Linked DNA regions of Homo sapiens: region 2 is linked to region 1. A link means that fine-mapping ties the variant in region 1 to the expression of a gene that starts in the linked region. Tissue or cell type: whole blood. Region 1 holds a variant in brackets; the other region holds the start of a gene. All regions are shown on one strand. Distances are between the middles of the regions.

Region 1 (8,107 bases):
CCCTTGGTAATGCATTCCCGTGCTTTGGTCATGAGAAAATCCCTTCTAACATCTCATTGCCCTCTCCCTACCCCACCCCCAGTGGCACATCACAGGCATGTCTTTTCTTTGACTCTTTTCTGTAACTGGAGTAAGGAGTGTGGGAAGTTCGGACGTTGGATTCTAGTTCTAGCTCTGCCATTAACCCGTATGTGACTTTGAGAATTGGAAGCCGGTATTTATTGAGGCTCTGCTCTGTGCTGAGTACCTCACTCCCTTCTCACGGCATGACTGTGGAGATGACAGGGTCCCCATTTTACAAAAGACAAACCTGAGGATCAGAGAGGTTAATAAACTTGCACCAAATCACACAGCTATGGAGTTCACATCTCCCTGACTCTACAGTCTTTTTCCACTGCACAGTGCTGACTTCCCTAGGGACCTGTTTCCTGATCCATAAAATAAGGGAATTGGATTTATTGTTCTAGAAAGTTCCTTCTGGTGTTGGCATTTTGTCACCACCTGCTCAGGGCCTCTGGAAGGATCTGAGGAAATTTCTGCTCAGCTTCCTGGCTTGGCTTCCTTGCCTTTCCCTGACCTTCTCTTTTGTTTGTCTATTCTCAGGCCTTCCTTACCATCCTTTCCAGTGAGTTGGTGTGAGACAAGGAACCAAATGTTTCCCTGGAGTCAGTGCAGTTCCATCTGCTGCGTTCCCTGCATAGCGGGCCGTGGGAACACTGTGTTCCACCCTCCAGACCCTGGTGCCTGGAGTGTTTTCCCTGAGCCACCCTGCCTGTCTGCATTCCCCTTTCTGTGGGGGCTTGGGCCAGCCCAAGTCAGGACCCATTTGCTTTTCTGTTTCTGAAAGCAGATGGCTTCCTAGTGGTAGGGGCAGGGTTGGGTGGACTTGCTTCCCAGGCACAAGGATTTTTATCAGCAGGCTGTTCCCATTTCTAGAGTGCCAACCCTTGTGTCCTCACACCACTGAAGGAGTTCATGCAGCCAGACATTTAGTGATTCACTTGTTCCACATCGTCAGCCCATCTTGGCTCCCCCACAGTGGAGACAAAGCCCTGACTTCAGATTTCTAGCTGTGGCTCATCTCACCTGTGGTTTGCTTTCCTGAGCTTACAGGTGAGGAAGTAGAGGCATTGGGAGGTGGGTCAGGGGCCAGCCTGGGATAGGAGCTCAGGAACCTGTCCTTCCCTGATTCGGGGTCCTCCTACCCTGCCCTTTCAGGAGGGCTGCGGCCACAACACGGGCCTCATCTTTCTTGGCTGTTACTAGATTTCTGAAAGCAGCTGTTTGTTTGTTGGCTTGTGAGCTCTCATACTTCCTGGTCCAAGGGCAAGGAGCAATGGTTTTGTGGTTTGTTTGTTTGTTTGTTTTAAATTCTTGAACCTAGAGCCAGCTGCATTCTTCATGTAATGTCACCTGGTAGGGGTTGGATGGTCAAGGAAGTACCTGGGTCCAGAGTAGGATTGCCTCAGGGGGACAATGTGACCATCATCACCATGCCATCATCAACAGTTGCATCATCATTTAGGACCTTCCTGTTTACTGGGTACTGTGATAAATGCATTAGGCACATTAACTATTTTGTCCCTACAATGAGTCTATGAGCTAGGTATTATTACCAGTTTTCAGACTGGGAGTCATGGTGTATTAGTCTGTTTTCACACTGCTGTAAGGAACTACCTGATACTGGGTAATTTAGGAAGAAAAGAGGTTTAATTGACTCACAGTTCTGCAGGCTGTACAGGAAGCATGACTGGGAGGCCTGAGGAAACTTACAATTATGGCGGAAAGTGAAGGAGAAGGAAGCACCTTCTTCACATAGTGGCAGGCGGATTGGGGGAAGTGCCACACACTTTTAAACAACCAGATCTCAGCCGGGCGCGGTGGCTCATGCCTGTAATCCCAGCACTTCAGGAGGCCGAGGCGGATGGATCACGAGGTCAGGAGTTCGAGAACAGCCTGGCCAACATGTGGTGAAACCCCGTCTCTACTAAAAATACAAAAATTAGCCAGCTGTGGTGGTAGGTGCCTGTAATCCCAGCTACTTGGGAGGCTAAGGCAGGATAATTGCTTGAACCTGGGAGGCAGAGGTTGTAGTGAGCCGAGATCATGCCACTGCACTCCAGCCTGGGTAACAGAGCAAGATTCCATCTCAAATAACAAACAAACAAACAAAAAACAAAAAACCCAGCCAGTTCTCACGAGAACTCTATCACGAGAGAGCACTAGGGGGATGGTGCTAACCCCTTAGAAACTGCCCCCATGATCCAATTACCTCCCATCAAGCTCTACTTTCAACAGGTGGGGATTACAATTCGACATGAGATTTGGGTGGGGACACAGAGCCAAATCATATTGTATGGTTAAGAAATTTGCTGTGGTGCAATTGGAAGATAAAGGCAGGATTAGAACCCAGCCTGGCTTACTCCAAAGTCAGTGGACAGTCTTCTCCATTAAGATCTATAGCCATTAAGGTTGACCTTGGACAACCTTGGTGACAACTCCTCTTTAGAGTGTGTATACAGTAGATACTCAGCAAGTGCACATTGTGGATATTCGCTACATACTCACTGAGTAGTGAAACTAAGCAATAAAGTCCATGTCATTGAAGCAAGTCCCTTCTGTGGCACAGAGTGAGAATTCAGAGATCTGAATCCTGTGAATAGCCACGTGCTCTATGACCAGGGGTGAATTACTGGCCCTTTTGACCTTGGGAAAAAACAAGGATGTAATTCAGAGGAACGTAGAACTGTAGACTGCTTCCGGGGGCTGGATGACTTGACCTTCAAAAAGGTTGTTGCAGCCGGAAGAGTAGGTGAGCTGCATCAAGTTGCCTGGGGCTTTGTTTATCCTGAGACAGACAGCCTTGCTCCTGGAGTTGTGAATTTCTGAGCATTCCATCCACCCATTGGTGGGGTACTTGGCACCAGTGCCTGGAGCCCTGGGAGTGGGTGCTGGCAGGATCAGTTGTGCTTGTGGCGCCTCACTCCCTGCACATGCTGCTCCTGGGCTCGAGCTTGGGGAGCAGACAGTGCCTCCTGACTGGTTTTCCTTTAGCTTTGATCTTGCTGGCTGTCCTTGCCAGGGCTTGGCTGCCAGCCTTGGTGGTTGATAGCCAACCTTTGACCTTTGACATCCAGCCTTCCCCCTCCTCCACATGTGCTAACCACAGTGAAATCACAGATGCACAAATTATCAGAACTGGGAAGAATCTTAGGCCAACTGCATCATTTTAAAGAGGAGAAACTGAGAAGTAGGGAGGAGGAAGTCCTTGTCTAAAGTGACAGATGGCAGAATGGAGTAAGCCACATTGGACTTTAGCAGCCTGCCTGCCTTGTCTTCAAGAGCCAGGAAATATTCATTTAATATCTTCTACATATAATCACACCACCTTTACCTAGGTGATCACTTAGGTACACACACACACACACACACACACACACACACACACGTTGTCTAGAGTCTCCCTTCTGGACCTCTGCCTGCCCCAGATCCTTCCAGATTCCTGTCACTGCCCCCCTATCA[A/G]AGATCCTTGCCCAATTTTCTACCCCAGTGATCTTGCCTCTGTTGGGTGGCAAAGGGCTGATGTGACATAGCTGTGACATAGATGTGATGTTAGGCCCTTGGCCTCTCCTCCTTCCCATACAGAGCAGATAGAGAGCTTCACTACTTATGGATATGAGGCCTTAGGTTGGTTCCTTACCCTCACCAAGCCTCAGTTTTCTCATTTTGGAAATGGGGATAATAACGCACTTAGCTTATTGCCTGGCACCCAGTCAGCTAATAAAATGTTAGCTATTATTTATTATTATTAATGGGACTATGATTATTCCTAAAAGCAGTAGCTCTCTGGAAGACTTCTCATCTAGCCTGTAGGAGGGGGCTTTGGCTCCATAACTTTTCCATGGTGGTACCCCCATCCCTAAAACAAAGTCCTGCATTCTAGGAGGGCTTCTGGAGGTCTCAATCCCTACCCTGGCCCCAACCATTGTCAGCCAAGCCTCTTGCATTTCACCGATCTCAACTCTGCCTGTTGCAAGTTATAAATAACCCTGGCCATCTGTGCTATGAAACCCCAATACTGAGACCAAAGCAGAAGCTTCCTAGATCCCTGCCTCCTTCCCCATCTTCCCCTGCTTCTGGCAGGAGTTTTGTTTTCTCTGCTTTAGAATTTAAAGCTTCTTCCCTTTGTGCTGCCTCCCCCATCCCAAAGCCTGTGCGTGGACTCTCCATCACTGCAGATGTCGAGGAACTCTCTGGGGAACAGTTCTCTTAGAAGGAAGTGCCCATTTCAAGAAATTGCACAGAAGCGGTGTGCTCCCTCCTGAGCCATTGGCTGGACAGGGCCAGCAGCTGCCAGGCAGATGAAATGTGCACGGAAAACATGAGGGTACCAGAGGCAGGCACCACTCACAGCAGAGGGGCTTCAAAGTTTCAAAGCCAAGCAAATCCTCAACCTCGTTGGGGGTTGAGGGGAGAATCCTTGGGCTCTTTCCTCACTGTCATTCTCACCCTCTAAGAAAACATACTTTTGATAAGTCCTATGCACTTTGGCCCCTCTCAATCTGCCAAAGTGATAATTAGCTAATCTGGGTGGCTATATGTTAGGGACTAAATGCTTGTGTTCCCAAAATTCATGTGCTGAAGCCCTAACCCCCAGTGTGATGGTCTTTGGAAATAAGGCCTTTGAGAGGTAATTAAGATTACATGAAGTCATGAGTGTGGGGCCCTCATGATGGGATCAGTGACCTAATGAGCTTGCGTGCACACGCACTCTCTTTCCCTCACTACCCGTCTGCACCCACGGGCCATGCATACATCAAGAAAATGCCAGATGAGTGCACAGGGAGAAGGCAGCTATCTGCAATTCAGGAAGAAAGCCCTCACCACAGTTGGACCATGCTGGCACACTGATCTCAGTTTTGGCCTCCAGAACTGTGAGAAAATAAATTTCTGTTGCTAAAGCCACTTAGCCTATGATATTTTGTTATGGCAGCCCAAATTGACTAATAACACTATATAAACAGAATGGCCAGGACATTCCCTCTTCTTAGGAAAAACATGTCATCAGGGGCTTCCTGCAGACAATGCCGATGACTGATGGTCTGCTGGGTTAATGAATTCTAGTACAGAGGCAGCCATGTTTTTTTCCATCTTGAGCCAGATGATCCGACATCCATAAAGTTATAATTGTTGTACCAAATTTTACTAAATAGAAGGAGATATTTACAAATTATAATGTATAAAATAATCCAACAACATTCATATCCCTGCCAATCCGGTTTAAGAAAGATAACCTGGCAGCATTTTCTTTGAATAATCTTACCCATTCCTTCCTTGAGCTGAGCTAAGTCATTGTTAATTTCATGCTTCTAATTTCCTTGCTTTTCTTTGTAGATTTATTATTGTTTATTTGTATCCTTAAATGATATGTGGTTTGATTTTATATGTTTTTAAATATTTTGTTAATGGAGTCAAAGTATATACATCTTCTTTTGTGACTAACTTCTTTCATCTGTGTTGTGTGTGTTGCAATTCATTTTCTTTTCATTGTAGTGCAGAATTCCATTGTATAAATAAACCACAACTATTCCTCAATTTTATTACCAATGGAAAGTATTTTTCCCCAGTTTGGGAGTACTAATTACTATGCTGCAATGAGTATTCTACTTCATGTCTCTTGATTTCCTACACAGAAAAGTTGTTCTAGGGTATATATAATATATAGAAGTGAAATTGCTGAGTCACAGAGGATATGCATTTTAAATGTTGCTAAATAGTGTAAAAATTCTTTTCTAAAGTGGTTGCACCAACTTATACTTCCAGGAATGGTGGTGTTGTCAGACTTAATTTTTTAAATTGTTTATCTGGAGGTAATAAAATGGTATCTCTTGTGTTAAAAGTTAAATATTCCTGATGACTAATGAAGTTGAACATTTTTTCAGATGTTTACTGGTCATTCAGATTTCTTCATTTGTGAAATTCCTGTTCAAGTAGTTTGCCCATTTTTCTATTGGATCATTTGTCATTTTCTCATTGATTGCAGAAGTTCTTCAGATATTCTTAATGGTAGTCTTTTGTAATGTGGTGTGTGTGTGTGTGTGTGTGTGTAACTACAAATGTCTTCTTCTCCTCTGGTTTGCTTTTTCACTCTCTTAAGCATGTCTTTTGGTGAACAGAAAATTTTTATTTAAATGAAGTCTAGTTTGTCAGTCTCTTACTTTAGGGTTAATGCTTTTCATTCCTGTTAAATCTTTGGTCATTGTAAGGTCACGCAGATACTGTTTTTCTGTTTTCTCCCAGAAGTTTTATTGTTTTATGTTTCACACATATGTCTTCATATGCCTGGAACTGAATTTTGTATGTGGTTTGAGGTGGAGGAATAAACATTTACTTTTTCCCATCATATGGATGTTCAACCGACATCATATGATTTATTGAAAAGATGATTGTTTCCCCACTGCAATGCGATGATATCTTCGTTGAAAATCAAGTAACTATATATATGCATTTCTGGACTATATTGTCTCCCATCTACCCTTGCACCAGTTGTTTTGTTCTTCTTCAAGACTGTCTTCTTCATTTAGAACCAGCTTGCCAATTTCTACCAGAAAACCAACCAAGCAAACAACAAACAAAAAGACTCCTAGAATTTGGGAAAGGACTAACATCTTCACCATATTGAGTCTTTTAACCCATGAATTTGGTGTATCTCTCTATGTGTTTAGATTTTCTATAATATCTCTCAGTAATGCCCTGTAGTCTTCATTGTACAGAATTTTAATATTTTTCACCAGATTTATTCCTAGGTATATGATTTTTGATACTGATATATATAGGCTCTGTAAGTTTTTTATTTTAAAATTGTGTATTGCTAGCATATAGGGATACAATTACTTTTTAATATTAGCCATATATCCAGTGACCTTGGTAAATGCACTTCTAAGTTTTAATAGTTTACATATATAAGTTCTTTTGGACTTTTTATATTCACAGTCATGTTATTCTCTAATAATGACAGATTTTTGGTTTTACATTTCTTATTCATTTTAATTTTGTATTGCCTTATTGTACTGGCTATATCTCCAGTGTAGTGTTGAATTGAAATCATATTAGCAGACATCCTTATCTTGTTCCTGATTTCAAAGGGGAAATCTTTATATATTTTACTACTTAGCATAATATTTGGTGTTATTTTAAAAACATTTTAACAAAATCAGATTAATGGAGTTCCTTTCTACTTCTAGTTTTGAAAGTATTTTACTATAAATAAGCATCGAATGCATTTTCTGCATCTATTGAGATCATTCATTCTTTTCCTTTATTCTGTAAATGTGGTGAATTACATTGATTGGCTTTTAAATGTCAAGTCGTTTTTATATATAATTTTTATATCATTGTATTTGATTAGCTAATATTATGTTTAGACTTTCAATGATGTTCATGAGGGAGACTGATATATAATTTTCCTTTCTTAACAAAGTTTTGTCAGGTTTTAGTACCACATTTATAAATACTATCCTCATAAAACAAATTGGGGAGTGTTTTTCTTTTTCTATTATCTTGAAGTATTTGTGGAAAATTTATGCCCAGTTCTTTATTAAATACTTAGAAGAGTTCAACTGGGAATCCATGTAGTCCTAGAGTTAGGAAATTTTAAAATTACAGATTTAATTTCTTCATTAGAAATAGGACACATAATAAGTTCTATTTATCTTAGTGTTAATTTTCGTAACTTGTGTATTTCAAGAATTTTTCCATTTTGTGAAAAGTTTCAAATGTATTGGCAGTTCTTCATAACGTCCCCTTACATTTTTAACATTTGTAGGATCTGATTTGTAGTGATGGTCCTTTTTTAACTCCTGATGTTGGAATATATGTTTTCTCTGTTTTGTCTTTGAAAAGTTTTTGATTAGTCTTTACAAAGAATCAACTTTTGGCTTTGTTGATTTTTTTATTCTGTGTTTTTTTTTTTCCAACTGTTTCATTGATTCATGCTCTTATCTTTATTATACTCTCTCTTGCATTTCTTTGGGGTTTAACTTGCTCTTCTTTAATAGGTTCTTGAAATGGATGCTTTGATTATTGATTTTCATGCTTCATTTCTATT
Region 2 (8,107 bases), 76 kb before region 1:
TATTCTTTTATCCCAGTGAAAATTGTTGATCTTGCTGTAGGGAAAAATTAAACTCTTTGAATCTCCAAACAAGGAAGTTTCAGCATTCCCTTATGGATCAGAGGAACCTTAGAGGCCTGAAATTGTTGCTTCCAGTTTAGCTGCCCCTCAAATTCAAGTGAATATTTTCCCTTCTCCCTTTACCCTTCTCCAGAAATAAAGCAGGTGACAGGGTTTTCAGAATCTTACCATATTGACTTGTGTATCTTTTTTAAAAAATAATTTGTGATATTTATTGCATACATTTTCTTTTGGCAGTTTTGGATTTTAGGTATTTTTTTGCATGAGGCTGATAATGGTGATGATGACTTTATACCCTTGGTACTATACTAGGAACTTTACATAGTATCTCTACTTCTCACAGTCTTGCAAAGTAGGTGATATTATTCCCATTTTATAGTTGAGAAAACGGAATTAGTGACTGTACCTATAACACCAGTAAATGCAGAGCCAAGATTCTGACCCAGGTCTTTTTGTTGTACCATAAGTTTAAAAGATGAGTCTCATTTTTCTTGTGGTAGATGGTGGTAAAAAGGAGTAGGCAGAGTGTACATAGATAAAAAAAAGTAAAAGGGTAAGTAAAAAATTGATTGTGGTATATGTTATTCTAATCAGCCAAAAAAGTTTAGAAGATTGATGAAATGATCTTTTAAATATGTATTTCTGAATAAAATGTAAAACCAAGAAAGTTATTTCAGGAAGGATAGTGACCCTTTCCTTGAACTGTTAGAAGGGCATTTATTAGGCTAAAACGTCATTAACAAAATGCATTGCATGTTGAAACCAGCCTCTTGAACCATAAGCACTTAGCGACTTTGCTCTGCCCTGTACTGTGCTGCTTCTGCTGTCATCCTGTGTGCCTACAGAAGCCTGGTCTTCCGTCCATGCAGAAATGCTTATGTCCTCCTGTTGTTTAGATGACTCCTATTGTTCAGGTGTACTCTGAGAAGAGAATCACGTTTTTCTGTTTTGCTAAGGAGAAAACCTTGCTGCTTGTCTCTCCTCCCACCCTCCACCATCCAAAATTAACCAGTGAGCTGGATATTACCTGGATATTGCCAGGAGGTGGGCATTAAGACAGTATTCTTTAAAAGTGAAAATCTTGTGAGGCAAACTGCTAAATTCACATTTTTGTTTTTTTTTTTTTACCATCTTCCCTAGGAATATTCCTAGAAAGCATCTGCTTAATTTTGCTGCTAACAGCTAACCTTATCCCACGTTGAGGGTGGTATTAAAACTGTTCACACAGAGTGAGCCTGGGTCAGTCAAAAACAGAATTTGGGCATTTGAGTGATAACAGACAACCTAAGGACAATGAGCACTTTGCAGATCTCTACAATTAAAAGTTGCCTCTTTGAGGCAGGAGGGGAGAAGCACAGTCCCTGCCAGGTTGCCTGAACTAAAGATGCCATGGAGCAGGAGTGTCTTGGTGCATTGTTCCCCGCTTAGGAGTACCTTTAAAAAGGGGGTGAAATAAATTTGGCTTAATAATTGTATTCTGACTCAGCTCTGAGTTTTTTGTGTCAAATTCCATGGTATGGTGACAGATACAGTACTAGATACTGCCTCAGCTCTCTCTCAGCATAATATTGACAAACATTTGGTAAAATGTGTTACCAGTCGTTATCTTGGCTTCAGCCTTCCTCTGCATTGGCTGAGTTGCCGTTTCTAGCATGATACATGCTTTATTAGTGACAGGATGTGAAGTGTCTCAGGGATTTCCTTTTGGTGAGGACCCCAGACCACCCGAAGAAGAATTAGAACTTTCTGGACTACAGGTTATATACTGTGATTTTGCTCTGTCAAGCAACATAAATTGATCCTTGAACGCTGTGAGAGTTATGGACACAGACCCTCACACAGTTGAAAATCTGCTATGACTTTTGACTGCCCGAAAACTTAATAGCCTACTGTTGACTGGAAGCCTTATTGATAACATAAACAGTTGATTAATGTGCATTTTGTATATGTAGTATATACCTTATTATAATAAGCTCGAGAAAAGAAAATGTTATTAAGAAAATCAAAGAAGAGAAAATACATTTACTGTTCATTAAGTGGGTCATCATGTTGAGCAGGCTGACGAGTAAGAAGAGGAGGGGTAGTCTTGCTGTCTCAGGGGTGGCGGGGAAGGAAGAAAATCTGCATGCAACTGGCCCTGTGCAGTTGAAGGCCCTGTTGTTCAAGGGTCACAGATTTAGCTTCACTTACCCACCCCTCAGATCAGAATTACTCAAGATTTCCCTGTCTTCAAAGAGACGCAAGGAAATTATGCCAAATGGTGAATATATTGGGTGGAAGATAAATGAGAGAAGGTTGTATGTGTCACTGATCTCAACTATAGCATTTGCTGCTGATATAGAACATGCTGTGTATATATCTATAAATACACACACATGAACACATTGCATGTATATAAAAATTGTTCACACTTTTAGTGGTGCTTACTGGGTATTGGTAAAGGATTGAGTAGGCACTGTGATGAAACTTCACAAAGCAGATGGAAAAGATGCATTAATAGCCACAGGGGGCAGGGTAAGGGAGCAATTCAGGAAAATGGAGAGGCTTAGCTAAAATTTGTCAGTCAGGAATTTTGGCATTTGAGACTTGTTTTCATACTATGTATATGTAATAGACAAACCCTTCATTTTGTAGTAACAGTGTTAGAACAGCCAGGTGCCTGAAGGCAAGCGACACAATTCACTGAAGAGCATACTACAGATGTAGTATCCGGATATCAAGTTTCCCCACTTAAAAAATGGGTGCGATCAAAGGAAAAGCAAGGAACGGGCAGGAGAGCAAGCGTGAAAGGTGACAAACTTGACAATTACAAGGCCGAGACTAAGGCCAATTTAGGGAACGGGCTGTTAGACTAGGAACAAGGGCGAGTTCAGAGGGAGGGGCAGAATGTGGGCAGCACTCCTGGGCCCTGAGACCCTTCTGCGGAATAAAACTCTGGCACTTCGCCACCTCCTAGGCTGAACCAAGATGGCGCGCGGCCTCAAAGCGGCGCTCTCGTCACGTGCCCGGACCCGAGGCGCTTGGGGGCGGGAGGCGTGGCCTCGGTCGCGGCAGCCCAGCCCCGCCTAGGGGGCGGAGCCGGGGGGGGTTGTCCGCGGAGGAAGGGGGCGGGGCCCCGCGGCCGCGCGCTTGGGCGGCGGAGGCTGCAGCTACCTCGGCGCCGGCTCGGCTCTAGGACGTGTCGGGCTGCACGGGTCGGGGGCGGCTCCCTGCTGCTTCCGAGCCTAGCCGCCTGGCCTTCGGCATTTGCAGGCAGGTGAGCGCCCAGAGCCTGGACTGGGGTAGGATGCGTCTTTTCCCCATCTCCAGCTCCCCTCGACAGTTTGGGGAGGGGTCTCGTCTATCGCACCTCGGGAAACAGCCCTTTTTGACTCCGTATGTGCTACCTCCGGCAGGCGTCGGTACTGCTTACCCTGCCGCCCCTCGCCCTCCTTTGCGGTGCCCTGTGCCCTTGGGGGTGAGGATAGGGGCGATGCCTGATCTGCGGGGAGGGCGTGGAGTGCGCCCTCTGCTCCATCGGCTTCAGGGGAGGGGGCCGAGTTGGCGAGTCTCCCGGTGGGAACGGAGCAGACTGCGCCCCCATTTCCCCTCCAGGAGAGTCAGAAAAAGCGCCTCTCGGCTCCGGGGCCAACCCCACTCCTTTGGGGACGCGATTCTGATGGGCTGAGGTCTTCGCTCTTCGCGGGGGTCTTAATCTTTCCCGAGTTGCTCATAGCACCCCTGTTCCTGTCGCTAGCTCTCCATTCCTCGAACTGCCAGCCTCAGTCTGTGCCAGAGATGCCCCCATCTCCGCAGTGCCAGGGCGGTGGGGTGGAAGGAGCGGCCAACCCGAGGCCTGGTGGGGGTGGGGACAGGGGTGGGCGCAACAGGAAAAGAGGGCTGGAATAGAGATGCCTGAACTGGGAGGGTGGGAGTGGGGCGCTGACTTACGTCCACGCAGTAGGGATGTTTTCCAGCGCAGATTTTGAGGTTTTGATGGTGGGTGGGAAGAGAGAGGTCGGGCTGGAGGACTTGGAGACATGGTGTAGGTGGTTTTCTTCGAGAAGGAGGAGGGATCCAGGACAAGGTGCCACTAGGAGCTGATGTCACCTTTGAGGAGAGGTGTGCTGGTAGTTTCCATCAGAGGAGCAGGAGAGTTGGGGCCGTTCTGTGTGGAGAGCAAGTGGTTAAGGAGGCGCTGCTTCGCAGGGAGATCCCCTCCTGGTGTGAGCTTAAGGGTCCCCTCCAGGAGCCAGGTTTCAGGGATTTCCCATAGTCCTTTCCAGAGTTCTTGGATCTGGTACCTAGTACTTTGCTCAACATCCAGCAAACATTTGTTGGACACCTACTATCTGCCAGATACTATGCTCGGTGCTAGGTCTTCTGAAGGCAATTTACAGCCACGGAGTAGCTGAAAGGTACACATAGGAGGCACACATAGCAGGTATTCTGTTAACACCCTTCTCACCGCCCATCCCCATTCTGTTACATTGCTGTTGGATTAGAAAAAGAAAGAACTGTGTCCACGTGCTTTCAAACAGCTGTCTGAATTAGACTCCAACCTACACACCCCCTACCACTATTAACTGGCCAGGTAGTCCCAGGGAAGCTGCCTAAGCAAAAGGGCAGCTTGAATGATTTCCCTTGGTTATTTTCTCAGATTTTGTCCTGAGGCTTGAGGAGGCTTCGTGGGGTAAACGGTATCTCAAAGTAAGGAGATAATGAATGACAAAATGGTTATTGGGGGCCAAGAATGTCCTAGACACTCTGTGTAGTGGGAGACGCCATCTCTGGAAGATGGAATAGTGTGGGGGAGGAGGGTGTAGAAGGGAATTCGCATCCAGTGGAGTTGGGGTTTGTGCTGCTGAGCATGTCGTGATGTCAGAACCGTGTGGTGCATGAGGTCTGGCTGCTGGGCTGTAAAGGAGGGCTGGAGGGGCAGGGCATGGCAGGCAGCCAGGCTCCTGGGTCTCATCTCTGAGTTGATTGCTGAAATCTTAGAGTTGGAAAGAGTTGTCAGGGATGGCTTATAGGTCCTCACAGAGCCTCTGAGGATGGCAGAGCTAGAGCTAGGCAAGAGAATGAGTAGTCAGGCTGTGGTGGTGATGAGGTGGGGATGAAGGCTCAGCAGGGCTGGGGAGCTGGGTGTTAAGGGGGTTTTAAGATATGGGCAGCTAGCCGAGGCCTTCGAATGCCAAGGACATTCTTCCCTGGGCTTTAGGCCCTACTGTGTTGGCTCCATAGGTGAGTTGCTGTAGAAACAAGGTGTGGCAATTGAGTGGTATGGGGTGTGTGTGTGTGTGCACACGCGTGTGTGAGTGTGTGTGCTTGTGCATGTGTTGGAGAGGAGGAGAGGTGAGGAGCAGGGAGGACTGAGGGAGTGAAAGCTGCCTCAAAGTCTGGGTCCTACGTAGGGAATTGAGAGAAATGGAGGGGAGGGAGTGGGGTCAGAGGGAGGGACAAGTGTGTATTGCAGCCACATGAAGTCACCATCTGTCCCCCTCTGGCCTGCTAGCTCACGGACCTATAATTAGCTCTGGAGGGCATACGGTGCTGGCTCACAGGAGCGTGGGACTTCGGGTGGCCAGCAGAGTGGAGGATTCAGAGGGACCATGGTCCTTGATGTACTGTGGAAGGGGCTGCTTCTAGGGGACCCTCTGCATTTGCTGTACTGGGAGGGGCCTGAGGCAACTGAGAATGTCACAGGGACAGGGCTGGTGGGGGAAACAGCAGTGGGGGAAGGAGCTCTAAGCGAGGATGGCAGGAGACTCCAGGGCTGGTCTGAGCCTGAGACCTCCCCGTTTGTTGCCTGGCTGCTGGCCCACTGCACAAGAAGCACGATTGCTGCCCAGCTCATTGCTCTGCCTTCAGAGAGGCTCGGGTGCTGCAACCTCGGGGCCTCCTTGAGGTGTCTCCATCCCCCCAGGTGAAGTCAGCTGTAGCGTGGAATAGCCATCTGCCTTTCACTTGGTGGCTGAGAGGCCTTGGCTGGGGATGCTTCGTTCTGAGAGAGTTGGAGGAGAAGCTGCCACCAGTTAATTCCGTTGGTCAAACTCCACGTGGTGCTCAGCACTGACCCCCTGGCTGTGCCAGAGACTGAGTGTTTGGTCACATGCTTCTCTGTACTGCTCTCCAGTGATTACATGTGTATCTGTGTTCTCTCAAGTAGCCTGTGAACTTTCTGTCTTACATGTCTTTTGCTTTCATAACAGTATCGGATGCATGGAAATCACTCAGTAAGTGATCATTGGATTGAATTGAAGAGGTCTGTCTTCTGATCCCCTGAGTTCCATGAAGCAGGGCCTCCTTGCCACTGGAGATATTTAACCTGGAGCAGCGAAGCCTCTGGGGACCCAGGACACTGGTGTTACATCCCTTTGGGGGCATTAGATTCTGTGGGCAGTAGATGAAGTGAAAACTTCCCAGTCTCTCATAAAGCATGGCATATGGGTTTATAACCCTGAACAGTAATATGAATGTATAGATATGGTATATATGTATTCTATATTATGTAAATAGATACTGTATATACTACTGTAGAGTGATTTTACAAAGAGTGCATACGCACAATATGATTTTGTAGTGAAGTGTCAGATGAAATAGCTGATTTGATTTTAGAGGCCTTTATTGCTTATTTCGCCCAGCTGTTAAGAGTTGAATTCTCATAAGTTAGATATATACTTGATGTGCCTTCATGGCCACTGTCTTCAGATAGATAACTGTCATTTCAAAGAGAGATGGGTTTTCCATTCAATTTAAGAAAAAGCTTCCTTAGAACGATGAAGCCTTCCTCATTTGATAGTGAGCTGCTTGTTCCTGAAGGATAATCAAGTCAAGACTGGGCTGCCAGGGATGTTGTGAAAGGAACTCCCACACAGGGTGGGAAGTGGCCTGTGTGACCTCCGAGAGCCCTTCTGAGTCCAGGTGTGAGGTGAGGCTGGATGGGAGAGGGCCTCAGCAGCTGCTTCAGAAGATGGCTCTCCTTTGGCCTAGAGGAGCGCTGCTGGGAGTGGAGGCCTGGGGAGTGGGGCCGGGCCTGGAGCTTTGCATGAGCTGTTCCGTGAGGAGTGGGCATTTTGGGACATGCAGGGGGGTGACCCCAGAAATCTCATGGACATGGAGGCCTGGGCTTGGGAGATGGTGCAGTGCATCCCTGATGGGTGGGGGTAGGTAGAAAGATGGGATGGCCCCAGTTCCATGACTTCAGCTTAAACTAGGCTAGTTGTGGAGTGCCCCAAATTTTTGGTCCTACTTTGGGGCAGAGCCCCTGGAGTAAGTGGAGCTTTCATTCTTTCAGTATCACCCCATCCCTCCCTCCTCTCTCGATTATACCTTCTCACATAGGTTCGAGGCCACACGTGGACTTACGCTGTCTCATGAGCAGCAATACACTTTCATGATCACACACGCATACTTGCACAAGCTCTCACAGCTCCCATGTGCTCCTGGGAGCATGTATGATGTTATGAATCCCAGATGCTTATGCATGTATGACCACACACATTTACTGTCATGGCTGTGTACCCACACATGTGTTCTCATGACCACAATTATATGCAGTCAAGATCCCTGATGTACTTATGACCACACACATCTACACACTGTCATGAGTCTATATACCTACTTGCTCTCATGCCTGTGCTCTCAGGATGCCATTCTTATGACCATACCTTTATACACAGACATACATACAACATATACTCTCTCTCTCTCTCGGTCCCCTTTTCCCCTCTCTCTCCCTATTGCCCAGGCTGGAGTGCAGTGGCATGATCATGGCTCACTGCAGCCTCAACCTCCTGGGTTCAAGTGCTCCTCCCACCTCAGTCTCCCGAGTAGCTGGGAATACAGGTGCATGCCACCATGCCCAGCTAGTTTTCATATTTTTAGTAGAGATGGGGTTTTGCCATGTTGCCCAGGCTGGTTTCTAAGTCCTGAGCTTAAGCAATCTCCCTGCCTTGGCCTTCCAAAGTGCTACTGCACCGAGGGCTTATGCCCGAGGCATGAACTACCACTGCACTGGCTTCTCTTCCTTTTTCATGGCCACACATATATACCATGCGTTCTCATG

Evidence for each region. PIP is the estimated chance that this variant, and not a neighbour inherited with it, causes the effect.
Region 2: it holds the start of PPFIA4, and the variant in region 1 is fine-mapped to the expression of PPFIA4 in whole blood (INTERVAL, PIP 0.95).

The regions. Positions count from the first base shown.
Region 1 is chr1:203,099,247-203,107,353 of GRCh38, forward strand. No RefSeq gene overlaps it. Among named protein-coding and RNA genes, the nearest start is that of MYOG, 17 kb to the left of the region's middle. The variant A/G (reference allele first, on the strand shown) is at 3,523.
Region 2 is chr1:203,023,314-203,031,420 of GRCh38, forward strand. PPFIA4 (PPFI scaffold protein A4) reads left to right here and starts at 3,178. Exons shown (of 30, transcript NM_001304331.2): 1 at 3,178-3,316. TMEM183A (transmembrane protein 183A) reads left to right here. Exons shown (of 8, transcript NM_138391.6): 8 at 1-1,535. RefSeq lists a silencer at 2,968-3,277 and an enhancer at 3,104-3,625.